4 linked regions of the Homo sapiens genome follow. The protein of the gene in region 4 purifies or fractionates together with the protein of the main gene of each other region. This does not show direct contact. Each region holds a gene or a part of one and is shown on either strand. Other genes may lie near its edges.

The links.
Region 1: the proteins of MATN4 (region 4) and VPS33B purify together in Homo sapiens (affinity purification with mass spectrometry; 2 studies listed by BioGRID and IntAct, with this or other methods). This does not show direct contact.
Region 2: the proteins of MATN4 (region 4) and BCS1L purify together in Homo sapiens (affinity purification with mass spectrometry; 2 studies listed by BioGRID and IntAct, with this or other methods). This does not show direct contact.
Region 3: the proteins of MATN4 (region 4) and ARG2 purify together in Homo sapiens (affinity purification with mass spectrometry; 2 studies listed by BioGRID and IntAct, with this or other methods). This does not show direct contact.

The regions. Positions count from the first base shown.
Region 1 is NC_000015.10:91,019,583-91,027,408, forward strand, and holds the start of VPS33B (vacuolar protein sorting-associated protein 33B), read right to left. Parts: upstream 3,013-7,826; 5' UTR 2,668-3,012; coding exon 2,572-2,667; intron 1-2,571. UniProt on the Homo sapiens protein: May play a role in vesicle-mediated protein trafficking to lysosomal compartments and in membrane docking/fusion reactions of late endosomes/lysosomes.
Region 2 is NC_000002.12:218,655,572-218,662,682, reverse strand, and holds the start of BCS1L (mitochondrial chaperone BCS1), read right to left. Parts: upstream 3,001-7,111; 5' UTR 2,940-3,000; exon of another isoform or gene 1,745-2,939; 5' UTR 1,696-1,744; coding exon 1,376-1,695; intron 1,278-1,375; coding exon 1,138-1,277; intron 925-1,137; coding exon 730-924; intron 487-729; coding exon 423-486; intron 174-422; coding exon 4-173; intron 1-3. Other genes in the region: ZNF142 (zinc finger protein 142), read left to right, coding at 6,254-6,533. UniProt on the Homo sapiens protein: Chaperone necessary for the incorporation of Rieske iron-sulfur protein UQCRFS1 into the mitochondrial respiratory chain complex III.
Region 3 is NC_000014.9:67,622,864-67,629,968, reverse strand, and holds part of ARG2 (arginase-2, mitochondrial precursor), read right to left. Parts: intron 4,103-7,105; exon of another isoform or gene 629-4,102; intron 1-628. UniProt on the Homo sapiens protein: May play a role in the regulation of extra-urea cycle arginine metabolism and also in down-regulation of nitric oxide synthesis. Extrahepatic arginase functions to regulate L-arginine bioavailability to nitric oxid synthase (NOS).
Region 4 is NC_000020.11:45,305,297-45,312,917, forward strand, and holds the start of MATN4 (matrilin-4 isoform 1 precursor), read right to left. Parts: upstream 3,004-7,621; 5' UTR 2,956-3,003; coding exon of another isoform or gene 2,847-2,955; intron 1,649-2,846; coding exon of another isoform or gene 1,627-1,648; exon of another isoform or gene 1,544-1,626; intron 321-1,543; 5' UTR 287-320; coding exon 214-286; intron 1-213. Other genes in the region: RBPJL (recombining binding protein suppressor of hairless-like protein), read left to right, coding at 1,627-1,648, 2,847-2,955, 4,271-4,396, 6,293-6,363, 6,543-6,658, 6,925-7,099. UniProt on the Homo sapiens protein: Major component of the extracellular matrix of cartilage.

The sequences.
Region 1 (7,826 bases), on a different chromosome or scaffold from region 4:
CTCTAATTAACAGGGAAAAATAAAGCTTTTGTGTATTGAAGCATTCCAATCAGCTGGAAATGTTAGAGGAATCTGAAGACCAGAGAAACAGGAGGCAGGGAGTCCACTTAGGGAGTTAATAAAACCATCCACAGAGCGCAAGCATGTGGCAATGAAAGAGGCCTGATTTAGGCTGGTGGTGGTGTGAGCAAACATAGATTAAGAGATACATGGAATGTGTAATATAATTTTTTTTTTTTTGAGATGGAGTATCGCTTTTGTTGCCCAGGCTGGAGTGCAATGACGCGATCTCGGCTCACCGCAACCTCCACCTCCTGGGTTCAAGCAATTCTCCTGCCTCAGCCTCTTGAGTAGCTGGGATTACAAGCATGGGCCACTATGCCCAGCTAATTTTGTATTTTTAATAGAGATGGGGTTTCTCCATGTTGGTCAGGCTGGTCTCGAACTCCCAACCTCAGGTGATCTGCCTGCCTTGGCCTCCCAAAGTGCTGGGATTACAGGCATGAGCCACCGCACCCAGCCTAATATTTTTTTTAATACTTGAAAGAAATTAACAGTGTTAGTAGTGTTTATAACTTATGGTAGGGCTATAAGTAGTTTTCTTTTCCTTTTTACTTTCCTTAATCTTCTTACATTTTCTATAATGTGCAAGTGTTATTTTATAATCACCATAAAAAAGTTATGTGTAAAGAAGTATCCATGGAACTCAGCAACTGGTTCAGTTAAGTATCAGGGTGAAGGAGAGGCAAAGATGATTCTGATATTTCAAGCTGAATAGCAGTGCACATTAACAAAAATTAAGTCAGAAGTTAGTTAGGAGAGGACGTTATTGCCTGGAAATCCACTTTGGCCATGCTGAATCACCCAGTGGGCTCAAGTTTCTCTTCTTGGTCTCCTCTACTTGATCTCACCTGAACTAGTGGCTTTAACTAGCACCTCTTTTAAATTCTTCAGACATTGTTGCAAGTCTTTTATGTGCATGTCACTGTGCAAGCACTAAGTATTAAAGAGAAAGAAGCCGGGAGTGGTAGCTCAAGCCTATAATCCCAGCACTTTGGGAGGCTGGGACGGGCAGATTACCTGAGGTCAGGAGTTTGAGACCAGCCTGGCCAACATGGTGAAACCCTATCTCTACTAAAAATACAAACATTAGCCAGGTGGGCTAGCGTGCGCCTGTAATCCCAACTACTGGGGAGGCTGAGGCAGAAGAATCGCCTGAACCCGGGAGGTGGAGGTTGCAGTTAGCCAAGATCGCGCCACTGCACTCCAGCCTGGGCAACGGAGTGAGACTGTGTCTCAAAAAAATAAATAAAATAAAATAGAAATAAAATCTGGTCTAAGATGCCCTGCAGTTCTCATCTTGATCCATCTTCCTTCCAGTCCTCACAATGCAGCTGCAGTTCTACATTTCTATCTGCTGGATGTTACAAGCTATATTTCTTACGGGCATCTTAACTTCCCCCATCCAAACCCAAACAAATCAACTTCCCCCATCAAACCTGTTCCTTTTTCTAATTATTTTTCTCATTTCTATTCAATGTTAATACAACAAATATTTATTAAGCACATGGTGTGTGCTTGACTCTAAGCTAGGTACTCACTAGGTAGTGTTGAACAAAACAAACATGATCCCTGCCCACCTTCCAGTCTAATGAGGAATACAGACATAAAATGAATAACTAAATGATTACACAAGTAATCCATTAAAATCACAGTGGCAGTATTATTTTCCTAATAACCCAGGTTAAAAATCTCACTCATTTTTGCTTCTCCTTCAACATTTATAACCAATCAGTAAGTCTTTGAGTTTTCTTTCACCATAACTTAAAAATCCATCACTTTCCTTCATTCCCACTGCTACCAATTTTGTGTGGGCCTTTATTTCTTGTCTGATCTACGGTCTCCTAACTGGCCTTCTTGTTGCCCATTTACGCCACCACACACATCACTATTAGAATCATCAAGTATTGTCTCATGCCACAAATGGAAAAAAAATTTTTTTCAGTGGCTACTGTGTAACTGCTGATGGGTGTCTTCCCTTACATGCCTTGTCTTTCCCTGGTTTGCCAACTTTGCTCCTACCAATCTATCTGCCTGGAGCATGCTTAGTCTCCAAAGAAAATATGCTTATTACTCACACTCACTTCCTTGAAGCTCCTAGATCATCACCCCAACTAGAAATGATCACTTACTGTGAACTCTTCGGGTACACTAGCTCTATCACTCATTTACCACCTGTGTGTGATAATTTGTGCTTCATACAGCTCCTACTGGAGTGGTAAGATCCCTAATGGCAAAGATGTCTTAACCATCTTTCCGTCCCTAGGGATGCCTGGCACTAATGGTGTCTCCCTTGCCTGTATGCGGGGTTGGGGGGTGATTTCCATTAACTCTCTGGCCAGGTTCCAAACAGCTCTTACTACTCCCTGGATTCATTCTGGACCTGCTGGGGAAGCGCCAAGGACAATACCAGGGGCCAAGAACAAGATCAAAGGGGCACGGCAAGGAAGAAATGTGCATCCAATGAGTGCTAAACTGTAGATGCGATAAAGGCGTCAGGCAAGCACTGACCTGCTCCAGCAGATAGATGAGCTGGTCTCGAGCCAGCCTCTTCAGCATGGAGAAGTCAGGCAGCTCAGGGGCGTCCGGCCGATGGGGAAAAGCCATGGCAGCGGTCACCTGCGCCGCGGGGTGGAAGGACGCCCTTCGTTCTGAGAAGGCCGGCCGCAGCCCAGGGAAGCGCAAGGGGGGCTATCCTTCAGGCCTGGGCACCGACTTCCAGAGACCCCAGATGGGCCCTCGCTCCTCAGCAGCACTCCAGGAATGAATGGCCACCTCCAGGCAAGAGAGCTACTACCTCGGAGCAGCCTTGTCTCAGACCTGCAGCCACCGTGTCTCGACCCTCCCTCCCTGATCCACTCTGCCCGTCAGCAGGATTCCGGTCTACACCCCGCAGAGACTCCGCAGCGTACGAGGAGAACCCCGCCTTCTACCAGAAAAAGAAGCGACTTCCTAGATCTCCCGGAAGTCCCTTTCGCTCCCAGCGCTTCGCGTACCAGGAAGGGGACGGCGTCCTGAAAGGGACATTTGAAAAACGGAGGCAACGCGTCTATTAATTAGGTGGCGGCGCCTGGGGTCGCAGCACTCCAGAGGCTGAGGTGGGAGAATCGCTCGAGTCAGGGAGGCGGAGGTTGCAGTGAACTGCGATCGCGCTACTGCACCCCAGCCTGGGCAACAAAGCTAGACCTTGCCTCAAAAAAAAAAAAAAAAAAAAAAAAAAAGACATAATGAATGCATCAGGCTAGCTAACAATACCTCAACTCTGATCAATCATACCATCATATCATTTCCTGGTGAGATGCATAGGAAATACAGAGCATCACCTATTGCCAAAAATTGAACCTAATCAAGCCTCAAGATCTAACTACCAGTTTATAGGCTATATAGAGATTAGCAGGAATATGTTAAGACACCAAAGGTATGAAATCAACCATATCCAAAATGTAGGAAATTATATGGGACAAATGATCTGTCGTCTTCAAAAAAATGGCAAAGTGGGAAATGTGGGAGGGGAAAACACTTCAGAATAAAAGAGATTTAAGAGATGTATCAACAAAATGTTTCAATGTGTGGATCTTTTTTGGATAATAATTCAAAGATAACTGATTTAAGGAATTACTAAAACTTTTCGGGTATTGTATTTCTTTTCTTCTCTTTTTTTTCCTGACAGAGTCTCGCCCTTTTGCCTAGTGGAGGAGCTCGGCTCACTGCAAGCTCCGCGCCACAACCCCCCTGCCGCCCCAGGTTCAAGAGATTCTCCTGCCTCAGTCTCCCGAGTAGACTGGGATTACAGGCGAGTGCCACCATGCCCGGCTAATTTTTGTATTTTTGGTAGAGACGGGGTTTCATTATGTTGGCCAGGCTGATCTCGAACTCCTGACCTCAAGTGATCCGCCTGCCTTGGCCTCCCAAAGTGCTGGGATTACAGGCGTGAGCCACAACGTTGGGCCAGGTATTGTATTTCTATGTTATTATTATTTTTTGTATTTCTATGTCATACAGGCTTGTATTTCTGTTAAAAACAAGTCCTTATCTCTTTGAGATACATACTGAAGTTTTTACAGGTGAAATAATTTGGCCAGGAGTAATGGTTCATGTCTCTAATTCCCACCACTTTGGGAGGTCCAGGTCGGGGTCGGGGGGTTGCTTGAGGCCAGGAGTTTGAGATAAGATTGGTCAACTACAACACATAAAAAATAGCCAGGCATGGTGGTGGGCACCTTTAATCTCGATACTTGGGAGGCTGAGGCAGGAGGATCACTTGAGCCCAGGAGTTTGAGGCTGCAGTGCGCTACGATCATGCTACAGCACCCCAGCCTGGGCAACAGAGTGAGACACCGTTTGTTTTTTCTTTTCTTTTTTTTTTTTTGAGACAAGGTCTGGCTTTATCTATCACCCAGGCTGGAGTGCAGTGATATGTTCTGTCTCTTTTTTTTTTGAGATGGAGTTTCGCTCTTGTTGCTCAGGCTGGAGTGCAATGGCACGATCTCAGCTCACTGCAACCTCCACCTCCCAGGTTCAAGCGTTTCTCCTGCTGCAGCCTCCTGAGTAGCTGGGATTACAGGCATGTGCCACGCACCCAGCTAATTTTGTATTTTTAGTAGAGACAGAGTTTCTCCATGTTGGTCAGGCTGGTCTTGAACTCCTGACCTCAGGTGATCTTCCCGCCTCAGTCTCCCAAAATGCTGGGATTGTAGGCATGAGCCGCCATGCCTGGCCCGATCTGTCTCTTAAAAAATAAAAAAAAAAACTAAAATATGTTTGGGATTTGCTTTAAAATAACCCAGGGGGAGATGTAGGAACATTCAGGAAAAAGATTGGGCCAGGCACGGTGGCTCACGCCTGTGAACCCAGACCGAGGCAGGTGGATTGCTTGAGCCCAGGAGTTCAAGACCAGCCTAGGCAACACAGTAAGACCCCCATGTCTATAAAAAAATTAAAAAATGATTGGCCATTTGTTAATTGTTAAAGCTGATGGGTACATGGGGGTTTATTGCATTTTAGTATTCTACGTCTTTATTTAGAGATGGAGTGTTGCTCTGTTGCCCAGGTTGGAGTGCAGAGGTATAGTCATAGCTCACAGCAGCTTTGAGCTCCTGGGCTCAAGTGATCCTCCCACCTCAGCCCCCCAGATAGCTGGAATACAGGCACATGCCACTTTGCTGAACTTCTCCCTACGTTTCTATGTTTGAAAAGCTGTATAATACAAGGTTAAGCAAAAAACAAAAAACACGCTATGCTCACACTGGACTTTGAGAGCTCATATGGTATTTTATGCTGAGCCTTTCTTCCCACTAACGCCCTTAGATTGAATCTTGGCTGCAGTGGGAGATGGAGGTTGCCCTAAAGTGGTGGGATTTACTCCCACTGCTGCTTAAAGAAGATGAGTGAGGCATTACATTACACTCCTTCTTTTCCCCCCCGGAATCTCACTCTGTTGCCCAGGCTGAAGGGCAGTGGTGCTGTCTTGGCTAACTGCAACCTCCGCCTCCCAGGCTCATGCGATTCTCCTGCCTCAGACTCTGGAGCAGCTGGAGTTACAGGCATGCGCCAGCACTCCCAGCTAATTTTTGTAGTTTTGGTAGAGATGAGGTTTCTCCATGTTGGCCAGGCTGGTCTCGAATCCTGACCTCAGGTGATCCACCTGCCTCAGCCTCCCAAAGTGCTGGGCTTACAGGCGTGAGCCACCGCGCCCAGCCTTATTTTTATTTTTATCCCATGACTTTTTTTATCCCATAACTTTTTCTTCCTAAGTTTTTTCCATAACTTTTTTTTTTTTTTTGAGATGGAGTCTTGCTCTGTCACCCAGGCTGGAGTGCAATGGTGCATCTGGGCTCACTACAACCTCCACCTCCCGGGTTCAAGCAATTCTGCTGCCTCAGCCTCCTGAGTAGCTGGGACTACAGGCACGCACCACCATGCCCAGCTAATTTTTTGTATTTTTAGTAGAGACAGGGTTTTGCCATGTTGGCCAGGCTGGTTTCGAACTCCTGACCTCAGGTGATCCGCTCACCTCGGCCTCCCAAAATTCTGGGCTTACAGGAGCGAGCCACCACGCCGGGCCTAGTTCCCTGCTTTTGGATGACAGTAATCTTCATCTCATCTGCACCTGTTTCCCCCATTGGACACTTCCCCAGGTTTTGCTGACAGTGGCCTGCTTTTATTTAATTTTTATCACATGACTTTTTTTTTAATCCCATAGCTTTTCATAAAACTTTTTTTGGAATAATTTTTTTTCATAACTTTTTCCACAACTTTTTTCCCACAATTTTTTTCCTCAGTCTTTTTTCATAACATTTTTTATCCCATAATGTAACTTTTTAAAAATCCCATAACTTTTTAATCTCATAACTTTTTTTTTTTTTTTTTTTTTTTTTGAGACGGAGTCTGACTCTGTTGCCGAGGCTGGAGTGCAGTGGTGCGATATCGGGTCACTGCAACCTCCACCTTCTGGGTTCCAGCAGTTCTCCTGCCTGAACCTCCCAAGTAGCTGGGACTACAGGGGTGTGCCACCATGCCTGGCTAATTTTTTATATTTTTAGCAGAGACGGGTTTCACTGTGTTAGCCAGGATGGTGTTGATCTCCTGACCTGGTGATCTGCCCGCCTCGGCCTCCCAAAGTGTTGGGATTACAGGCGTGGGCCACCGTGCAGAACATCTCATAACTTTTTTAATCCCATTACTTTTTTTAATCCCATAACCTTTTCAGTTTGTGTTCTTTTAATAAACACTTGCATAGTTATATTACAATTTTGTAAAAATAAAAACATTATCCCATGCCAAGTGTGCCCAGCACTTGCACAATCTCGATACCTTTAATACTATGGTTTTCAAGACACACAAAATAAAATTTTAAGTCAAAAACAGCACTTTGCAACAATAACTTATTACATTACAGTAACATCACAGCAGTATTCGATAATGACACTTTAGGCAAAAGTCTTTCAGTATTTCCATTATAAATTCTATTTACAAGAATTCGTAAATAGGTAAAAGTTATTCTAAGAAAACTTGACAAATAAAACTTTGGACTGGAATTGGCATTTCTTTCTCTACTTTTCCTTCTCCAGTTTCTTTCTTTTAAGCTACAGTATTCATATTTTAAAATGTTTTATTTCAAAACATTAAAATAACAGTTACTTTTTTAATAGTTATACTATTATAAAATGACTCCTTAAGATAAAGTTTTAAATAAATTATATTCTGGATAGGGCTGATTTACATTTTGAAATTTTCTAAAAATCAGCTTGGTTTTAAAATGGATTTTTTTTTCCATTTCCGGAAAACCTATCAGGTTTAATCAAATACTTTAAAAATGATTATCATATATTGCAATCTTTTTTTTTTTTTTTTTTTTTAGAGATGGAGTCTCACTCTTTTGCCCAGGCCAGACTGCAGTGGCGCTATCTCGGCTCACTGCAAGCTCGGCCTCCTGGGTTCATGCCATTCTCCTGCCTCAGCCTCCCCAGTAGCTGGGACTACAGGTGCCCGCCACCGTGCCTGGCTAATTTTTTATATTTTTTAATAGAGACGGGGTTTCACCATGTTAGCCAGGATGGTCTCGATCTCCTGACCTCGTGATCCGCCCACCTCGGCCTCCCAAAGTGCTGGGATTACAGGCACTAGCCACTGCACCTGGCCCATGCCTGGCCTATTTTTATAGAGACAGGGTCTCACTGTGTTGCCCAGGCTGGTCTCAGACTCCTGGACTCAAGTGATCCACCCACCTTGGCCTCCCAAACTGCTGGCATTACAACTGTGAGCCA
Region 2 (7,111 bases), on a different chromosome or scaffold from region 4:
TACTCTCCACAGCCAAGTCTCGACTGAGAAAAGCAGCATCCACATCCTCCAGGAGTACCAGGCTCTGCTGCGGGGCCACGCTCAGCAGGTGGTTGAGTCGGTCATCAGAGAGGCTGGAGTCCGTGAGGCTCAGCAGGCAGATGCTGTGCTCCAGTTCCCCAGCCAGGGCTGTGCTATGGAGCATGGGATGGCAGGAGGTAGCAGGCAACCTGGAAATGCTTCCTCAGGCCCAGCTACTCTCCTCACCGCCTGGGGACATGTGTCTCAGAGGCCTGACTTCTACCTCACACCCTGATGTTCCACACGTTTCATGTTTATCCTGGTCCCCGATCCCCAGATTCATTTCCCCTTCCAACCCTATCAGCCTAGTGTTTCCACAAAGGCTTCGTTTTGCCAAGTTGAGAGAAATTTTGAATACTCACATAAAACTGCTCTTTCCGCAACCAGGGGGCCCATAAAGCAGGTAGCCACGTCTGTAAGGAATGCCTAGGGATAGAGCCAGGATGATCATGTCTTTTGCCCCGGATATCTACGTTCATTCCCAGCCCTGCCCCCTGGAAGCCTGATAACCTTGGTACGGAAATAAATCATTCTCATACACAACTTTTCATTCCTCTTAATCTCTGGGAATTGGACTAGAGCTTTATATCACCCCATCTGGCTGGAGACCAACCTGTCCCTTCTAAAAATGTCAAAAACAGCACAGCCAAGACCCCAGCTGCTTCTCACCTCTGTCAGTGTACCACTTGGGGTTATCGATGAATTCCTGGACGTCTCTGACAATTCGGTCAGCCAGACCCTGTTGTAGAACCACAGAATTCAGTGGTCGCCGGCGGCGTGGATAGCCAAAGGGACGCCATTCAGAGCCCACAGCTGTGTACATCACGGTCTTCCCTTCCTCCTGCTGCAAGGCTAGCTCTCGAGCTGGGAAGGAGAAGATGAGATAAAGCCAATAATTCTCTTCACCATGGCTGATTCTTCAATTAGGTGGAGCTGTGCCAAACAGCTTCCTTCTGGCCCCCTGTTCCCATGGGCTCACCCCGGCCTGCTTATTCCACTTCTCCAAACTGCTCATCTGATGTCAAATGTCCCCATCCCTGCAATGTCCCTAGAAAGCCTGCCTGTGCCATCCCACACCTTCCTCCAGGATGTTGAAGAAAACCTTTCGGTCAGTGCCCAGGGCCGTGAAGGTGACAGATTCCCAAGGAGTCCCCGTCTGCAAGTCTATCATCTGCATCTCTCGACTTCGTTCTACCCGAATCCATTTCCCCCGATACCTGAATAAGAACGATCAAAACTGAGTGAGTGAATGGGTCAAACCCAGCTCCCATCATTCTTTTCTACTCTCACAGCCCTCCCTAGCTCCCCACCTTACCAGATAAAATGGTTTCCAGGGCTGGGGACAAATTCAAACTTAGTGGAAATGCGGCCACTCTCATGCTGAAGGTACGAAGTCTCGACACTGAGGTGCTGAGTACGGGTACTGTGGCGGGTGAGCCAGCTAAGCAACCAGGCATAGCTCCTGTCTCGAGCAGGGACTTCCAGTGTGATCATGTAATGGCGCCGGAATGCCACCAGGCCCAGTTGGACACCCTTCCGGGCCAGGGCCAGGGCTGTGCCCACACCCACCAGCCCAAATCCAGCCCCAAAGTAGGGATTGTCCTTCAGAGCCAGAATAAAGTCTGAAAGTGGCATCTTGAAAGGGAAACACCAAACCTTACAGGCCCTGGGGTGTTACGAAAACCTAGGGGTGGGGAACAGTGGAGATGGGACAAAGCACAGATTAGAAATTGGACCTCCCCAGCCCTGGCCACAGGTCAGCATTACTGTGTGGGTCAATACCCTCCTTTTGTGGGGTAAGGGTGGTATTGGAATGCAAGGGTGGAGGCTCCAGGTCCCTCATCCCATTTTGTCCTTCATTAGTCTACTCATACCTGTTTCCTACCAGAGGACCATGTCTGGAGATGCCTTAAACCAAAAAGAGCTATATAAACAGGCTTCACATCAGGGTAATGGATGGACAGGATTTTTGTGGTCCCTGGGACCAGCTATGATAAAAAGGGGTCCATTGGCTGCAGTCAGCAAGGGAGAAGCGTCCGTTGACTTGTCAGTAACCCTATGTCTTGTTATGAGTAATGTCCTTCAAATATCCTCCCCCTTACGTCCCCAATATTTAACGTCTTGTTTAGACCTTTATTACCTCCCACCTAAACTGTCTTTAAAATCGTAGTTCTTGAAATGGCATTTTAATAGGTCTTCACCTCCTGCTTCACGGAACATCTACACAAGGGTCCAGATCTTTCATCATAGGGATCAGCTCCAATACCATATCTCTCTCTGCTCCAGCACCTTCAATGGCTGGCTCCCAGCAGACCCCTGAATTGGGTATAAACTCAGCCTGGTACTCAAGGCTCTCTACAATACGGCGCCCACCTACCTTTCATGGATTAGCTCCTAACACTACCTGTTTAGCAAATATGCAAATACGCAACAAATATGTTCAACAAGTAAGCAACCTCCCAACTCCTTGCTCATGCAGTGCTCTTGGCTCGGAATGCCCGTTCTTTTCTCCCTCATTCTCCCCAAATGAAAATCTGCCCATCTGCTACTTTCTCCACGGATCGTCACATCGTAGACAATAAGATCCTGAGGGACAAGAGCAAAGTTGTTTCTAGTACACCTCTCCTCCAACCCCGAACCCCGGCCACTTTGCCCTGCGCCTGGCATGCAGGGAGGTGAGCTGACAGCAGTGACCTCGGCTGAGCCTCAGAACTGGGATCCAGAATTCCAAAACACCTATGCATGGAAGGCCACAGACAAAGCTCTCCCGTCCCCGGCCCCTCCGCGACACCCAGGAACCCCCTCCTGAACCTCGCCCACACCCCAGCTCGCGCCTCCAGCCACATGGTTTGGGGTAACCCGTCACTCAGCCCTCTCACCGCCGTGACTCTCTGGCCCTCCGTCTCGATGGTTTCACCGCGCCTGCACCTTGGGGAAGCTGCGTTCGGCCCCGCCCCGGGTCCTTTCATCTACTTCCCGCCACACCCACAGAGAAGCCCACGCCACTCTACCCCAGAGCTCTCGATGGTGCTTCTCCGGCTTCAGGGCTGGAGTGGGGGTGGAGGGCGGGAAAAACCACAGAGACAAAACATAGAGTACCCCGGCAGCCGGCAAGAGGAAGAGAGAGTGGCTTCCACATCCCCAATATCCTAGAGGCGGCTGAGCCGGAGGCGGTCGCACAAAGCGGGCCCCGGGGGCCGTTCCAGCCGCGGCCGACCATAGAGATGCGGCTCCCGCCGGCTCTGGGTCTGGAGGTGAGTGAGCGGCTGCGGGGCGGAACTGGGAAGGGAATGCGGGTGGAGCGAGCTGGAGGCAAAGTTTTTCGAGCCCCGGGATCAGGGTGGGCCTGGGCGCTGGGAACTCTCGGAAGGAGGTACTGAAGGGAGCACCCAGACGAGCTGGGCCCCGGCGCTGCAGTCGCGTCACGGTTCTGGACCCCGCCCGGGTACCTGCTGCTCTCAGGACAAAATCATGACGATGCTCCATCCCAAGCCTTCCAGGTTACAAACCGCCTTTCCAGTTCGCTGGCTCTTATGATCCAGCTCCTGCCCGACGATGTGGACACTGTCATCACCTCCATTTTACAGATAGGAAAGCTGAGGCCCAGAGAAGCGAAGCGACTGTGTCTGTCCAAGACCACGCGGTGAGTCAGAGCCAGAGGCAGGTGGGAACCTGGGTCGCTAGGCCGGGGCCCGTTGTTTCTCCAGGCCTTCTCTCTGCCTTAGTCTGTCCTTTCTCTTCCTCAGCCCTCCTGCCCGGAAGATAAGCGTATTTCTTCTCTGGTGCCCACCTGTCTCCTACCTCACCCTGCCCTCCCGCAGGTGAAGGTTCTTAATCTTGACGGCTCAGCGTCCTCCTTGGCTCCCCCCGGAGGCCATGTATGGTCAAGCTTGAAGATTCCCCAGAACAGCGATAATATTCAGTAAGTGGAGGCTGCAGTTTCCAGAGAATCCCTCTGACCACGGGAGTGCACTTTCCAGCCACCTTGTGAATCCCTGTGATCTGTTGTTTTGAGTCCATGGGATTCTGGAAATAGGGACTATCAGATTGCAGGATCTTGGTTTTTGTTTGTTTTTTTTTTGAGACGGAGTTTCGCTCTTGTTGCCCAAGCTGGGGTGCAATGGTGCGATCTCGGCTCACTGCAACCTCCGCCTCCCGGGTTCCAGCGATTCTCCTGCCTCAGCCTCCCGAGTAGCTGGGATTACAGGCGTGTGCCACCACACCCTGCTGATTTTTTGTATTTTTAGTAGAAACAGGGTTTCACAATGTTCGCCAGGCTGGTCTCGAACTTCTGACCTCAGGTGATCGGCCCGCCTTGGCCTCCCAAAGTGCTGGGATTACAGGCCTGAGCCACCGCGCCCGGCCTGGTTTCTTCTTCTTTTTTTCTTTTTGCATCTTGTCTGTGACTCAATTTCATGAAGTGATTCCCATCATTCTTATTAATTACTAATTATTCAGCTTAAACTCATTTTAGCCATGTATAACAGGGTATGCAATTCAATTGTCATTCATTCCTCAGTTATGTTCCCATATTTAGTTTGAGGCCATAGTCAGTTAATGAGTTTGAAATTTCTCCAAATGTGTTACGTTATAGGTGAGGAACCACTGGTTTTGTACAAGATACCTAGCTTTACTCCAATGCAGCTCCATATCTGTGGTTCTTCACTGGAATCTTCGATTGTGGGTGATTTGTGTTCGTTGAAGTGATAATGTCAGTATCACAAAGTAATATCATTGAAGTGATAATGTCAACAAATTACTAAAAAAGCTATACATCTAGGGAGAGAGACTGACAGGTAAACAACAGTGCAGTGTGACCTCGTTTCTGATAGGGCTGTGTACAGAGTGCCCTTAGGACGCCAGAAGAGAGAAGATAAGAGTTTCGGGAAGCCAGGCCCGGCGCGGTGCCTCACGCCTGTAATCCCAGCACTTTGGGAGGCCGAGGCAGGTGGATCACCTGAGTTCTGGAGTTCAAGACCAGCCCAACCAACATGGAGAAACCCCATCTCTACTAAAAATACAAAATAGTAGCCAGGCGTGGTGGTACATGCCTGTAATCCCAGCTACTCAGGAGGCTGAGGCAGGAGAATCGCTTGAACCCAGGAGGCAGAGGTTGTAGTGAGCTGAGATCGTGCCACTGCCCTCCAGCCTAGGTGACAGACTAAGACTGTCTCAAAAAAAAGAATGTCAGGAGGCCTTCATGGTGGAAGTGACATTTGTGCAGCTTCTTCAAGGATAGTTAATTGGTTAGCCAGATAAGAGAGAGAGATTGAGAAGGGGAAAAGGCATATCAAGCCAAGAGACGCAAAAGGCTGTGAGGGTATGAAAGCAAAAGAGAATGTGGTGGGTCTGGAGAATGGCACATCATCTGGTTCAGAGATCTGCTGAGGGGAGAAGTGGGAGATGAGTCAGGGGAGGTCAGCAGGAGCCAGATGATGAAGGAAGGGCCTTCCTTATAATCCATGCTGAGGAATAGTGAGATTATCAAAGGTTAAGAGGGAAAGGGACCAGGCAAGGTGGCTCACGCCTATAATCCCAGCACTTTGGGAGGCCAAAACGGGCAGATCACCCAAGGTCAGAAGTTCGAGACCAGCCTGGCCAACATGGTGAAACTCCATCGCTGTTAAAAATACAAAATTTACCTGGGCGTGTGTGGCACATGCCTGTAGTCCAGCTATTGGGGAGGCTGAGACAGGAGAATTGCTTGAACCCAGGAGGCGGAGGTTGCAGTGAGCCAAGATCACGCCACTGCACTCCAGCCTGGGTGACAGAGCGAGACTCTGTCTCAAAAAAAAAAAAAAAAAAGGACTTCTGAGATATTTGGGCCCCACCTAATTTTGTTGCAGATAAGAAATCTGAGACCCAAATTGCTTAATGACTTGGCTAAGGGCACTTAGCTAGCAGAAGACAACCTGCAGTCATTAATATATTGGCCAATACTTGTTGGCTGTCTCCTAATATTCTGTTATCATTTTTATACTTTTTGTTCTGAACATTATCATAAAAGAAAGCCTCTATTTAGTCTCATATGGTATATATGGCATATTGCCATGCAAGAAAATGCCTAAGTGGGTGGGCACTGGGCTGTGTACCCACGCCAGCCAGGAAGAAAGTAAGAACTCTAACCTTACTTTGTTTTTCTTCTGGTTGGCTTGTCAGCATTTAAGAAGCCAAAACACACAAGTCGGTGGTGATGACAGACCCCCTTTTGGACTCACAGCCAGCCAGTAGCACCGGGGAGATGGATGGACTGTGCCCTGAGCTATTGCTGATCCCCCCGCCTCTCTCTAACCGTGGAATCCTGGGGCCTGTCCAGAGCCCCTGTCCTTCCCGGGACCCTGCACCTATACCTACTGAGCCAGGCTGCCTGCTGGTAGAGGCCACAGCAACTGAAGAGGGACCAGGGAACATGGAGATCATTGTGGAGACAGTAGCTGGAACCCTGACCCCAGGTGCTCCTGGAGAGACCCCAGGTACAAACACAGTTGCAAGCAGGCCAGTGGGACAAGCAGCTCTGAGGTTTTGTCTGGGTTATTTTTGATTCTGTATAAATATGATGAGAACACAAGGTAGCATCCTATTTTTATACTTGGAGATGTTGTCATTTGGTTTGCAGTTGGTGCATGTTGATTGAAGGCTGGCGAAGTGGTGCACAGCCTTCTACCAAGCTTTTGGCAGTCTGTCCTGCAAGGGCTTCATGTGTGCTAGGCAGTAATCCAGAAAGTAAGACCTTTCTGACACCTCCGCCCAATCCTGGCTTGTCCCTACTCTTACAGTCCTTGGAGATTCTTTCCTCCATATTGACCCTCCTACCCAGGAACTGCAGCCAGGGATTAAGCAAAAACCCTGTCTCTACCACCCTGGGCTTGGCAGGGCTTTCCAGAAGTGATCTGGTATTTCCCTGCCCTAGTTTTTTGTGTATAACATACTTTACTCATCCGAGGCATGTTGTTAAGAATAAGAGTTGAGGCCTGGTACAGTGGCATGCACCTGTAGTCTCAGCTACTTGGGAGGCTGAGGCAGGAAGATTGCTTGAGCCCAGGAGTTAGAG
Region 3 (7,105 bases), on a different chromosome or scaffold from region 4:
ATGATTTTTTAAAGATTTTTGAAACTATTTATATTTTTGTCTTACAAATGATCACTTTTAAGTGGACTTTCTGTAAGAATGTACAACTCAAAAATTTGCCAAGTATCTATCGGATCCACACAAATCCTTAGAAAGGTTTTCTGTGTAGTCTTCACTAACGCAAGTCCTTGGGAATGTTTCACTTTTACTGTAGGATCTTGAACACATTTCACAATAATGAAACTATAAAGTTTTTATGCAGTGCATTCGTTATTAACTATAAATAACATTTCTATTAAAAAAGAAATCTGGGTAGTACAGTTTCTTCCTTTGTAGTAAGAGCCGAGAAGACTGAGAAGTTGATTGGACACTACCATCACTACCATCATCCATCTCCAGAACTCATCTTGCAAAACAAACTCTGTACCCATTAAGCAATAATTAACTCCCCATTTCCTTCTCCCACCAAGTCCTAGTAACTGATATTCCACTTTGTTTTTATAAATTGGACTTCTCTAAAAACTTCATATAAATGGAATCATGCTGTATTTGTCCTTTTGTCACTGGCTTATTTCACTTAGCATAATGTCCTCAAAGTTCACCCATATTGCAGCATATGTCAGGTTTCTTTGTTTTGTTTCTTAAACAGATGAGGCTTTATTCTGTTGTCCATGCTGCCAGACTGGAATGCAGTGGTATGATCATAGCTCACTGCAGCCTCAACCTCCTGGGCTCAAGCAATACTCCTGCCTCAGCCTCCTGAATAGCTAGGACTATGTGCATGCACCACCACACCTGGCTAATTTTTTTCCCCCCACTGTGGAGATTGGGACTCGCTAAGTTGCCCAGGCTGGTCTCAAACTCCTGGACTCAAGCAATCCTCCTGCTTCAGCCTCCCAAAGTGCTGGGATTACAGGCATGAGCCACCCCACCCAGCCCTGCTTTTTGAAGAATGAATGATAGTCCATTATATGTATGTACCACATTTTGGTTGTCCATTCATCCATCAATGGACACTTGGGTTGCTTCCACCTTTTGGCTATTGTTAATACTGCTGTGAACATGGGTACACAACTACTTCAAGATCCTGCTTTCAGTCCTTTTGGGTACATACCCAGAAGTGGAATTGCTAAATCATATAGTAATTCTATTTTTAATTTTTAGAGGAGTTGCCATACCGTTTTCCATAGCAGCTCCATTTTATGTTCCTACCAACAGTGTAAAAGAGTTTCAATTTCTCCACATCTTCATCAACACTTCTTATTTTCTGTTTTGATAGTAGCCATCCTAATGGCTGAGGTGGTCAAAATTTGCTTTTTACAAATTATGAAAATGGGATAATAGCAAATGCCTAGCACAGTGTCTAGAAGATGGTAAATGTTAAGTATCAAAAAACTTTTGATAAGAGGTATTAAGTTAAATAAGAGGTATTAAGTTAAAATCTTTGCTGTCATAAATGGGAAATATACGGCTACATTGAAATTTGCCAAATCCCAATAGTGTCTATTATAGATTTCCCTCTATGCAGGCACATCACTAAGTTTTTACTAAGGCATTAGCAAATTACTGATTATGTATTCACCTCCTAAAAGGAATCTGCAGCCGAGCACAGTGGTGCACATCTGTAATCCCAGCTATCCTGAAGGCTGAGGCAGGAGGCTTGCTTGAGCCCAGAAGTTTGAGGCAGTAGTGTACTATGATTATGTCTGTGAATAGCCCCCACACTCCAGCCTGGGCAACATAGTGAGACCTATCTATAAAATAAAAGAATCTGCAATATAAAGGAGGCCCAGAAAATGAAAAGCTTGAACCCAAAGAAATAGGTCACTATTAGTGACATTCCAGGTGAGATTGGAGAGGGCCCTAAAGTGATGCCACTTATCAGCTCATGCCTCAGCTCCTATTCCTCTGCTACAGGTGGCCCATCCCCCAAGGGCACTGTGGCACAGATGAGGTCCAAAGCAGGTTTGGTCTTTGCTAGATCTCTAAAGGAAATATAAAGCCAATTTGCTAGACATTTACTCTTCCAAATACATATCAGAGTGACTTTAGAAGTCAAAGAACCCAGAACTTTAATAACCTTAAACAAACAAGCTCATTCCAATAATTTAGCTTCCAGTCACATATGCAGACCCTAGGCAAAGACTTTTTTGTGGGAAATGGGACAGGTGCTGTACTTTCATTTCTTCCTTGCTGTGGAAATAGACTCTTAAAAAATGTAGAGATGGGGTCTTGCTACATTGTCCAGGCTGATCTTAAACTCCTGGCCTCAAGCAATCTTCCCACCTTGGCCTCCCTAAGTGCTGGGCTGACAGGCATGAGCCACTATGCCTTGCTAAGTGTTTAATAGAAGAGTGTGAATGGCAGAGGCAGAAGGTTTGGTGGATCATACAGCCTTACAGTCTCTTCAGAAACATCACTGATATTTGCTGTTGAGTCAACCTAGCAACCAATTCTTGTCCCAAAGATATGACACTGTTCAAAAGGCACCTCAGAGATGCCAGTTTCATCTCTTTTCAATGCCCAAAACTAGAGCTTGAAAAGATGGATATCTATCAACAGACATGATTTGTAATGTGTCTTTACTGTATATTTCATAAAATATAAACACATAAAACTTACATAAGTATAACAGATAGTTGTAAACACCCTATAATTACTACCCAAGTCACAAAACAGATCAATATTAGCAATTCAGAAGTTTCAGATATATATATATATATATATATATATCTCCTTACTGATCACAATTGCCTAGTTTTTTAATTATTGAGATATAATTCACATACCATAAAATTCATCCTTTTAGAATTTATAATTCAGTGCTTTCTAATATATTCAAGAAGTTGTGCAGCCATCGACACTACCTAATTCTACAACAGTCCCATCACCCTTCGGAAAGAAACCCATGCCCTTTAGCAGTCATTCCCAGCTCCTGGGAACCACTAATCTCCTTTCTGTCTTTATGGCTTTGCCTGTTCTAGACAGTTCATATAAATGGAATCATATAACATGTGGCCTTCTGTGTCTGCCTTCTTTGACTTAGCATGTTTTCTAGGTTCATCCATGTTGTAGCATAAATTAGTACTTCATTCCATTTATGACTGAATAATACTCCATTATATGGATATGTCAAATTTTCCTCCCCTATTCAATTAATGTACATTTGAGTTTCCACATGTTGACCATTATGAATAATGCTATGAATATTTGTATATAAGTTTGTGTGTGGCCAGGTGCAATGGCTCATGCCTATAATCCTAGCACTTTGGGAGGCTGAGGCAGGTGGATCACTTGAGGCTAGGAGTTCGAGACCAACCTGGCCAACATGGCAAAATTAAAAATACAAAAGTTAGCTGGGCATGGTGGTGCTTGCCTGTGGTCCCAGGTACTCAGAAGGCTGAGGCCGAGATTGCACCACTGCACTCCAGCCTGGGTGAAAGAGCGAGACTGTCTAAAAAAAAAAGTTTGTGTGAATATATGTTTTGAATTCTGTTAGGTATATACATAGGAATGGATTTGCTTGAGGACACAGTAACTATACATTTAACTTTGAGGATCTGCCAAACTGTTTTCCAAAGTGGCTGCAGTTTTACATTCACACCAGTAGTGTATGACAGGTCGAATCTTTTTACACCCTCACCAATACTTGGTATTGTCTATCTTTTTTATCATAGCCATCCTAGTGGGTGTGAAATGGTATTTCATTGTAGTTTTGTGGTTTTTTTTTTCCCCTGAGACAGAGTCTCACTCTGTTGCCCAGGCTGGAGTGCAGTGGTACAATCTCTGCTCACTGCAACCTCCACCTCCTAGGTTCAAGTGATTCTCCCACCTCAGCCTCCTGAGTAGCTGGGACTACAGGAGTGTGCCACCACATCCGGCTAATTTTTGTATTTTTTAGTAGAGACGGAGTTTCACCATGTTGATCAGGCTGGTTTGAACTCCTGACCTGAAATGATCTGCCCGCCTCAGCCTCCCAAAGTACTGGGATTACAGGTGTAAGCCGCCACACCCGGCCATTGTAGTTTTAAATTTGCATTTCCGTAATGACTAATGTGTTTACTGCCCATTTGTATAACTTCTTTGGAGAAGTGGCTAATTAAATCTATTGCTAATTTTTAAATTTGGTTGTCTTTTTACGGTTGTTATTTTATTTATGTTTGCCGAACACTAGAATCTTATCAGGTATATGATTTGCAAATATTTTGCCAATTCTATGGGCAGTCTTTTTACCTTTTCTCTTTTTTTTTTTTGGTTTTTCATTACATTGATGAAGTCTTTCCAGTTTCTTTTTTTTTTTTTTTTTTTTGAGATGGAGTTTTGCTCTCGTTGCCCAGGCTGGACTGCAATGGCACAATCTCGGCTCATCACAACCTCCGCCTCCCAGGTTCAAGCAATTCTCCTGCCTCAGCCTCCCGAGTAGTTGGGATTACAGGCATGCACCACCATGCCCGGCTAATTTTTTTTTGTATTTTTAGTAGAGATGGGGTTTCTCCATGTTGAGGCTGGTCTCGAACTCCTGACCTCAGGTGATCCGCCTGCCTCAGCCTCCCAAAGTGCTGGGATTACAGGCGTGAGCCACCGTGCCTGGCCCCCACTTTCTTAATAGTGCTCTTTGAAACATAGATGTATTTAATTTAGCTAAGTCAAGTTTAATTTTTGTCACTTATGATTTTGATGGGATAGCTAAGAAACCAATACCTAACCCAAGGTCGCAAAAATCCAGTCCTATGTTCTCTAACAGTTATATGGTTTCAGCATTACATTTAGGACTTTGGTCCATTTTGAGTTAATTTTCATATATGGTGTGAGATAGGGATTTTTTTTTTTTTAATGTGGATATCCAGTTATCCCAGCACCATTTACTGAAGACTATTCTTTCCTTACTGACTTGTGTTGGTCAAATAAAGACAGCCTTGTGAATGGACAATTTTAGGAAACCATCAGACCAGTCAAATGACAATTTTCTGGGGATGGTCTATGAGGAGTATCACCTCTGTTCTCCCTTTTGCAGTAACTGCCAGCCTCCTGGTTTCACTGTGATTGCAGGCTATCGGTTGTCCAGGCTACAGCTGATCTGGGAAAAGGCAGCATGGGAACAGGGCAAGTTAAAATGCCACAATTCTTAATGTTCTTACTGAGATTCAATGTTTTTCTTGAATAAATGCTCCCCAGATTGCTGCAAGCCTTTGGTTAATTTCCAGAGTTCTGAAAAAGCTGATTCTGATCATTTTTGCCAATGTTCTTGATATGGTTTGGCTCTGTGTTCCCATCCAAATCTCATGTTGAATTTTAATCCCCAATGTTGGAGGTCTGGCCTGGTGGGAGGTGATTGGATCATGGGGGTTGTTCCTAATGGTTCAGCACCATCTCCCTAGTGCTGTCTCATGATAGAGTTCTCATGAGATCCGGTTAAAAGTGTGTATCACCTCCCTCTTCGCTGTCTTCCTCCTGCTCCTGCCATATAAGACGTGCTTGCTTCCCCTTCACCTTCCGCCATGATTATAATTCTCCTGGGGCCTCCCCAGAAGCAGAAGCCTGTATGTCCTGCAGAACCATGAGTCAATTAAACCTCTTTTCTTTTTAAATTACCCAGTCTCAGGTATGTCTTTACAAAAGTACAAGAACAGACTAATACAGTTCTCATTCCTTTTTTGGAGGTCCTATGCCACCATTTTCAATGGTGTCACTATACAGTATTTTAAAACAACACAGATTTCCCATTAAAGTGCAAATTTCTGGCTTTTCTTGAAAAACTGGAGAAAAGAGTACAAGGCCCACTCCTTCTCACATGGTAACAGGTGGCTAGAATTCACAAATTACCATGGTTCTCAGAGCTAACCAAAATCGAGTGCAGATATACTGCTCCTCAGCCTTGCCAGAGCAATGCCTTTTCATTTCTCTTAGGCCCTCTTAAGCCCAGGAGTTCGGGACCAGCCTGGGCAACATAGTGAGACCCCGGCTCTACAAAAGAAAAAAAAATTATCCAGGCATACTGGCATGTGTCTGTAGTCCCAGCTACTCAAGAGGCTAAAGTGGGAGGATCGCTTGAGTCCAGGAGGTTGAGATTGCAGTAGGCTGTGACTATGCCACTGCACTCCAGCCTGAGTGACAGAGTGAGACCCTCTCTCAAAGAAAAATAAAAGGTGGCTGGGAGCAGTGGCTCACTCTTGTAATCCCAGCACTTTGGGAGGCCTAGATGGGCAGATCACCTGAGGTCAGGAGTTCGAGATCAGCCTGGCCAACATGGTGAAACCCCATCTCTACTAAAAATACAAAAATTAGTCAGGCGCAGTGGCAGGCACCTGTAATCCCAGCTACTTTGGAGGTTGAGGCAGGAGAATTGCTTGAACCCGGGAGGCGGAGGTTGCAGTGAGCCAAGATCGCATCACTGTACTCCAGCCTGGTGACAGAGCGAGACTCCGTCTCAAAAAAAAAAAAAAAAAAAAAAAAAAGGTTACCTGAGAGTACTGTTGAGTGTCCTTACTAAGCCCAAGGAAATAAAACAAGCCCAGACACTAAGTCAAATACATTCATTCGAGAGAAAACAGGAAATTTAACTCATGCTATGGTAACACCGGCAGCCTGTGACATCAGAGCAAAGGCAAGGAACAAAGGGATTGTGAAAGTTACCTTTCCATGAGTCTCTCCTTTGAAATTTGATCCATGCTGTTTATTTGAAAGTGTTCAAAACACTCAAGTTATTTTGGTACTGTTTAGGAACAGAGCAACTGAAATGTCTCTTGGTACTTTTCTCCAATATATTCCAGGAGATTAGCCAAAACCACATGCTAGAAATCTGCTGAGAGCCACAGTTTTATTTAATAGGCTATGAGATTCTATTTCAGACTGCTGGTGATACTGAGCTACCAGTCAGCTACACAGTAAGGATATAATTGTACAATTAAATATATTTGAGAAAAAAAGTCAAAGGGAAGGCCATATAAACTGAAGCCTCACCATCACTTTAGGTTGGAGTTTAAAGAGGGAGTAATATTTACAGGAGAATGGCTTCCCCTGGGTTGGAGTGGAAAAATACCAAGAGCTGTGACAGGAAAGGAAGTCTACAAAGCATGAGTAAGAGAAGCTGCTACAAATGTGCCCTTCCCCCTCATTCAGCAGCCTC
Region 4 (7,621 bases):
CACCCCATGGGCAGTTCTGCATGCGCCCAAAACTAAGCCACATCCTACAGATGAAGAAACTGAGGCCCAGAAAGGTGAAGTGGGGAACTTAAACCCAGTCCCATATGTTCCAAAGCCCTTGCTTCCCTCTCCCCAGCAGGAGGAGCTGGCTGCAGAGGGAGGACCTGCTTCCGCTCCCCTCCTCCCACTGGTGAGGGCTGGGCCCCAGTTCACCTGTCAACTGGAGCTGGGTTTCCCAGGGCTGAAGAAGGAGCAGCAACACGGGCCAGCAAAGAAGGCCTCTCATGGCGCTTGGGGACAGAGAATGGAGGTGTCAGAGCCTGGAGGGAGGAAGGAAAATAGAAAAGCAACAGTATTTACAGAGCTCTTATTCTGGGTGATAGGCACTTGGAGGGGGAAGACAGTTACAGGTTTATTTTACTAATCTCTCTATTTTTGTGTATGTTTGAAATGTTTCAGAATTAAAAAATTCTCATCACAGTGGGATTGCTGGGAAACACAAGAGATTCTTTTTTTTTTTTTTTTTAGATAGAGTCTTGCTCTGTCGTCCCGGCTGGAGTGCAGTGGCATGATCTCGGCTCACTGCAACCTCTGCCTCCCAGGTTCAAGCGATTCTCCGGCCTCAGCCTCCCGAGTAGCTGGGATTACAGGCTCCTGCCACCACACCTGGCTAATTTTTTGTATTTTTAGTAGAGAGCGGGTTTTGCCATGTTGGTCAGGCTGGTCTCAAACTCCTGACCTCAGGTGATCCTCCCACCTCGGCCTCCCAGAATGCTGGGATTACAGGCGTGAGCCACCGCGCTCGGCCCACAAGAGAATGGTAAATAAGAATAGATACATAGATACAAATATGCAAAATTTAAACAGAAAAAAACAGGTCTTCCTTAAATGTCAGGCACAGTGTTAAATGCTCTTCACGCATTGTGGCATTTAATCCTCTCTGCAATTGTAAGACTAAGGCTGTGATTGTCCCCCATCATACAGACAATGAAATTGAGGCTCAGAAAAGTTAAGCGCTGGTACCCAAAGTCATTCGGCCAAAAAGTGGCTGCGGCAGGATACAATCCCACGCCTGCTAGTTTCTGTGAGCCAGCCTGGGCGTTTGGTGCCTCTCCTCCTGCCAGGCGAACCTCTGCAGACAGAAGCCCTTCCCCACCTCGGCCCACTCCCCTACGCACACAGGCTTCTGTGTGGCTGTCTTTGCAACTCGCCAACCCCCCCAGACCCCTCCACACACACAAACACAGACATGCACTGCCCAACCGCAGGCGGCAGGGAGGGGCTGCGCCCTGTTGCGGGGCTGAGCGTGGTGGCGTGGCAGCGAGTGGACCAAAACCCACTGCGCACGAGAACGCGCGGCTTGGCGCCTGTTTCCCGCCTGCTCTCAGGAGCGACCGCCAGGGGGCGCCCGAGATGGCAGGGGGCGTGGGAAGCCCACATCTGCCCAGCAGGTGCGCCCACCCCGAGCAAACAGGGGGCCGGGGCCCGGGGCCTTGGAGATAAGGCCTGGACAGGATATAACCCGCGCAAGAGCCGAGGAGCAGGGGTGTGCAGGGTTCCAGCGACAGCAGCACTGGACTCGTCCAGAGGGCGGCGGGTGAGCGGCTGGGGCCCCGTGGAGCCACCATGGACCCCGCAGGGGCAGCAGGTGAGCGCTTACCCTCCCGAGGCCCCGGAGACGCCCCGTGAGAACTACGAAGGACCACCCCCCCACCCCCTCCCCACTATACAAATAGGAAAACTAAGCCCCAAGGAGGCAGCCCGCCGAACTGCAAAAGCAGGATTAGAACCTAGGGCTCCTGGTTCCCCTTCTCTCTCTTGAGGCCCCCTGGCGCCTAGAATTCACTAAACCTCATTTCCTTCCAGCTCCTACCCCACCGCCGCGCCCCATGCTGAAGCTGTGTTAGCCATTTTTCTGTTGCTGTTTCTTGGCAGAGAGGGCCAGCTGCCCCTAACCCAACAGCAGCTCCGCCCCCGCCCCCCAATTCCGTGAATGCGCCTATTCTGAGCGAGGCCAGTGCCTGCTTCTCACTCCAGGCGACCTTCTCATCCCGGATTCTTCTCCCTTTTCCCCTCCCAGGCCTGGTAGAAGAACATAAATCCTCTGGCAGGGCCCGTCGTGGGAGGGTGACCAAGCAAGATGTGGCAGCGCTGGTGGAAGTGGGAGGGCGGGGAACCCTTGTCAAGCTTGGGCCACAGGCAAAGCCAACATCCCTGGACAGCATGAGGGCTAAGGCACAAGGGGCCTCTGCCACCTCCCATACTTTCCTACCCGGAGATGCCTCTGGGCCCCTAAATCTTGGTTAAGGTTCCCCTCATCCCATTCTTGGTCTGAGCCAACTTCTCACCTGGCACCCTGCCTCCACCCCAGGAATCCTAGAAAGTCAAAATAGCAAATGCCTCAAAGTTCATCACCTTTCCAAACCCCTCATTCTACAAAGAAAGGAACTAGGTCCAGAGAGGGTAGTGTCTTGCTGAAGGGTACATGGCGATGTCGTGGCAGGACTGATACTAGAACCTGGGATTCCTCTGAGGAGTTAATCCTTGCATTAAAAAAAGAAAGATTCAGAGATGCCCTGAGGTGAGGTTGAGGGAGTGGAGCAGCAAGGGAGGAGAGGCCTGTAAATAAATTCTCAAAAGTCCCTTAGGGACATTTCAGGGGGTTCCTGGAGGGATGAGAGTAGAAAAGGGATGATCCTATTTTGATGGCTTTGAGGGTGGGGGCTCGATTTGGAAAGGACCCTGCAGAAGTGGGGAAGGGCACTGCAAATCAGATAGGGCACCCTAGGCAGCGTCTCTGCTAAAATACACTCGCCTGACCTGGCTTGATGCCTACTCCCCTGCAGACCCCTCAGTGCCTCCCAATCCTTTGACTCACCTGAGCCTGCAGGACAGATCAGAGATGCAGCTGCAGAGCGAAGCCGACAGGCGGAGCCTCCCGGGCACTTGGACCAGGTAACGGCGGCGTGGCAGCGTGCCCTAGGTGGGGACTGCCAGGCAGCTGGAGCACACAGAGGCAACGGCCGCATTTAACCCAGGGCTGGCGGGTGGGGAGGGGAAGTGCAGGCTGCAACCCCTCCCACTGGCAGGGAGGGATCCCCCCTTCCTCCTGAGGGGGGGCAAACCCAGCACCCCCTGCTCCTACCACGCTTGGAGCTGCAGACAGGGCTAGCTGCGGGCCAGGCTGGAATTCAGCTACAGCGGGAGACTGGGGAGACCGGGGCAGCCACACTCCACAGCCGGAATTCATTGGAAGCTTAGAAGGCACTTCCCTGAGGAGAGCCCCAAGGGGTGGAGCGGTCCTGGCTGTGGCTGCTGCCTGTCTGGCCTGGCTTTCGAGGGTGCGGTCTTGCGCTGTCCCCTCCAGGAGTGAGGAGAGACTCTGGTCCTGCCAAGAGGAATAAGGGCTCAGAAGGACAGCCTCAGTTTTCATGGCTCTCCTTGGGCCTCAACCTGCTAACCCCCCAAATCTCTCCCACCTCCCCTCCTCTACTTGCTCCCTGCAATTGCTCGGGCCTACCCACCCACACCGCTCAAGACCCCCAGGTTAAGAAGCCACCAGACCTCTAGGCTCTAACCTGGCTCACTCTGCAGGACCAATGTCATCTGCCTTGACTCCTGTAATCAAGGGTAGGAAAGCCCACACAGCAACAGGCCACTTCTCATGGGAGAAAGGGAAGAATATGGCTTTGGCCCCAGAAAGGCTCAGATTCCCCCAGGCCATCCCCCATCCTGAGGACAAGGTTTTGGGCCCTTTTCTGTTTGCAGGCAGGAGGCTAGAGAGCGCTCCAGGCCAGGAGCCCAGGAAAGGCTCTCCCTTCCCCTCCCTCCTCACCCCCCACCCTGCCTTCCCCAGGGTGGGGAAGCTTCATCTCTACCAATTCCATCAGCCCTAAAATACTCTTCTCCATCCCAAGGCCAGTATAAGTGCAGCCTTTGTGTCACAGCCACGTGTCCCTATGGCCCTGGGCTCCAATGGGCATGATGCCAGACCCACAGAGTGGAACCTGGGTGGTCCCATGGGTTCCATGCAGGCTTCGTTGAGCACCTTGCAGCCTAAATATTTAGCCTACAATTTGCAGCCAAGTCTCCTCCTTACCTAATGCTTCCTCTTCCTGACCCCACAGGGGCAGGATATAGAGCAGCCCCACCCTCCCACTCACTCTAACCCCCTGCTCACTTCATTTTACTCAACCTGAGTGCTTGGACCCTGTGCCACCTTGACCCTTCTCCCTCCTGTGGCTGGTCGACCTGCCTGCCCTACTCCCAGGTCATCCCCAGAGCACACCACCATTCTGAGGGGAGGCGTGCGCAGGTGCCTGCAGCAACAGTGTGAACAGACTGTGCGGATCCTGCATGCCAAGGTGGCCCAGAAATCATACGGAAATGAGAAGCGGTAGGTGCCTCCGCAGCCCCTCCCAGGTCTCTGCAACTGTCAGCCCTATGCACCTCCTCCATCCACCCATTGGGCCTCTTTTAGACGCAGAGCAGGCCTCAGGGCTGAGATCTCAGCTATTGGTCGACCAGGGCCTTGACCCTCAGCCACCATTAGCCCCCACTTTGGTCTATAGTTCTACAGCAGGAGATTCCCTGTGAATCTCCTGTCTCCATTCATTCACTCATTCTCCCATTGATTCACTTATTCATTCATTCAACAACTACTTACTGAGTGTTTGTCATGTATGCACCAGGCTCTGTGGGTACTGCTGGGCACTGGGCATACAGCTGAACAAGACAGAAACAGCCCCTGCTCTGTAGCCCACACTCTCACTCAAGTGTGGAAGAGACAGACAGTAAACTCCCCACAAGTCAGGAAACAAGATACTTGCAGATTATGATGAGCACTAGAAGGAAAACTGAACGAGGCCATTTGACGGAAACTGAAGGCAGGGGGGACATTAGCTAGAAAGGTCAAGGAGGTTGAGAGACCTTTTGGGAGGTAACATTGGAACTGAAACTTGAATGCTGAAATGGAGCCAGACAGGAGAATATCTGGGGAAAGCGTGCTACAATTAGAAGGAACAGAAGGGCCGGGCGCGATGGCTCACACCTGTAATCCCAGCACTTTGGGAGGCCGAGGCGGGCGGATCACCTGAGGTCAGGAGTTCGAGACCAGCCTGGCCAATACAGTGAAACCCCCTCTCTACCAAAAAATACAAAATTAGCTGGGCATGGTGGCGGGCACCTGTAATCCCAGCTGCTCAGGAGGCTGAGGCAGGATAATTGGTTGAACCCGGGAGGCGGAGGTTGCAGTGAGCCGAGATCATGCCACTGCACTCCAGCCTGGCGACAGAGCAAGACTCAGTCTCAAAAAAAAAAAGGGCAACAGAAAATGGGAAGACCTTGAGGCTGTACCAATTAGGCCTGTTTGAGGTACAAAAGAAATGACAGTGGCTGAAATCAGAGGGAGGAGTTGTAGGAAACAAGTCAGAGAGGTAAGCAGGGGTCAGATCTCAGGAGGACTTTGAATTTTAAACCAGTGGAGGATTTTAAGGAGTTAACATGATTTGACTCATGTTTTTAACAAAACACTCTGGCCAGCCTGGTGGCTCATCCCTGTAATCCCAGCACTTCGGCAGACCCAGGTGGGCAGATTGCTTGAGCCCAGAAGTTCCAGACCTGCATGGGCAACATGACAAAACCATGTCTGTACAAAAAACACAAAAATTAGATGGGTGTGGTGGCTTGTGTCTGTAGTCTCACCTACTCAGGAGGCCGAGGTGGGAGGATCAGTTGGGGAGGCAGAAGTTGCAGTGAGCCCAGACAGCCGAGATCAAGTTACTGCATTCCAGCCTGGGCAACAGAGCAAGACCCTGCCTCAAAAAAAAAAAAAAAGAAAAAGAAAAAGAAAGAAACAGGAAGGAAGGAATGAAAGAAAAAAAGAAAGAAAGAGAGAGGAAGGAAGGAAGGAAGGAGCACTCTGGCTGCTGTGCGAAATGGGAAGGAGATAGAAACAGAACTTTCTGGAAATAGACCAGTTTGAAGGCTGATGCTGTGGTCCAGGCAAAAAGTAATGGCGGCTGGGATGAAGGGCGAGGTGGTAAAAAGCCAGTGGATTCTGGATATATTATATTTTGAAGGTGGAGTGGACAGGACCTTCTGATGAGTTGAATGAGGGGTGTAAAAACAATAAGGTTTGGCTATGAATGGGGTTTACAGTCGTGAAAAAGCGTTGCGGGGAGCGGGAGGAGGAAACGAAGGTTCTGCTGGGTTTATGCTACTACCTTGCCGTGCTTACAGGAGAGCCAAGTGGAGATGGATGCACGACTCCAACACTCACTTATCTCCGCAGGTTCTTCTGCCCCCCGCCCTGTGTCTACCTCTCGGGGCCTGGCTGGAGGGTGAAGCCAGGGCAGGATCAAGGTGAGGGCGGAATCAAGGGCTGCCGGCCGCCTGCTCTGTAGGGAGGACCACGAGATTGGGCCCGAGACGGGGCGGTTCGCAGGCGCAGTCTCCCCGCGCCCTCTGGCGGCGAGCGCTAAGCTTGCCTGGCACCTGCGTCCTCCCGAGTCCTTGCAGAGCCAGTTCGCGTCCCTTTCCAGCTCACCAGGCGGGGGAAACGGGGCCCACGGTCTGCGGTTACATGGGACTGGACAGCGCGTCCGGCAGCGCCACTGAGACGCAGAAGCTGAATTTCGAGCAGCAGCCGGACTCCAGGGTGAGAGCGCACGGGAAGGGGTCCGATTCCTGCTCCCATCCCTGCCTCTCCTGGGAAAGGAGGGCTCCTTTACTCCCCTCCGAAAGCCAAGAGATAGGTGGGGAGACCGGGAGGCCGGGGTCCTGCCTTAAGGCCGAGCCTGAGAGCCTGGATGGTGGAGCTTCTGGTCACCTCCGACGGGGCGGACGTCCGATATCTGGGAGAGGTTGGTTCATCCGACGGGGGAGGGCTGGGATGAGATGGCCCTGTACCTGTGAGCCCCCTAGGAATTCGGCTGCGCCAAGACCCTGTACATCTCAGATGCAGACAAGAGGAAGCACTTTCGGCTGGTGCTGCGGCTGGTGCTGCGCGGGGGCCGGGAGCTGGGTACCTTCCACAGCCGCCTTATCAAGGTCATCTCGAAGCCCTCGCAGAAGAAGCAGTCGCTGAAAAACACCGATCGTGAGCAGGGCGGGGCCTGACCCCCGGCCCGGGCGGGGAGGTGCAACCAAGCCCAGAACGGCTAAACTGGGGCGCGGAGGTGGGGGTAGGCTGGGCTTAGGGGTCAGAGTGGAAAAGGTGGAGTCGGAGCCGAGAGGGGAAGGAGTCTGGATGAGTGGGTGCGGCCCAGGCCTGGGGATGAGAAGAGTTGGAGGATGAAAAGCAGAGAGGAAAGGGACAGATACCAAATTCCAGGTTGGGAGTTGGGGTCCCAGAGCAGACAAAAGTTGAACTAGGCAGGAGTTGAACTAGGGACAGACTAAAAGTGACATAGGTGGGGCACGGTGGCTCATGCCTGTAATCCCAACAATTTGGGAGGCCAAGGTGGGCGGATCAGTTGATCCCAGAAGTTCAAGACTAGCTAGGGCAACATGGCGAAATCTTGTCTGTACCAAAAAAAAAAAAAAAAAAAGAAAAAGAAAAATTAGCCTGGCATGGTGGCCTGCACTTGTTGTCCCAGCTACGTGGGAGGCTGAGATCAGA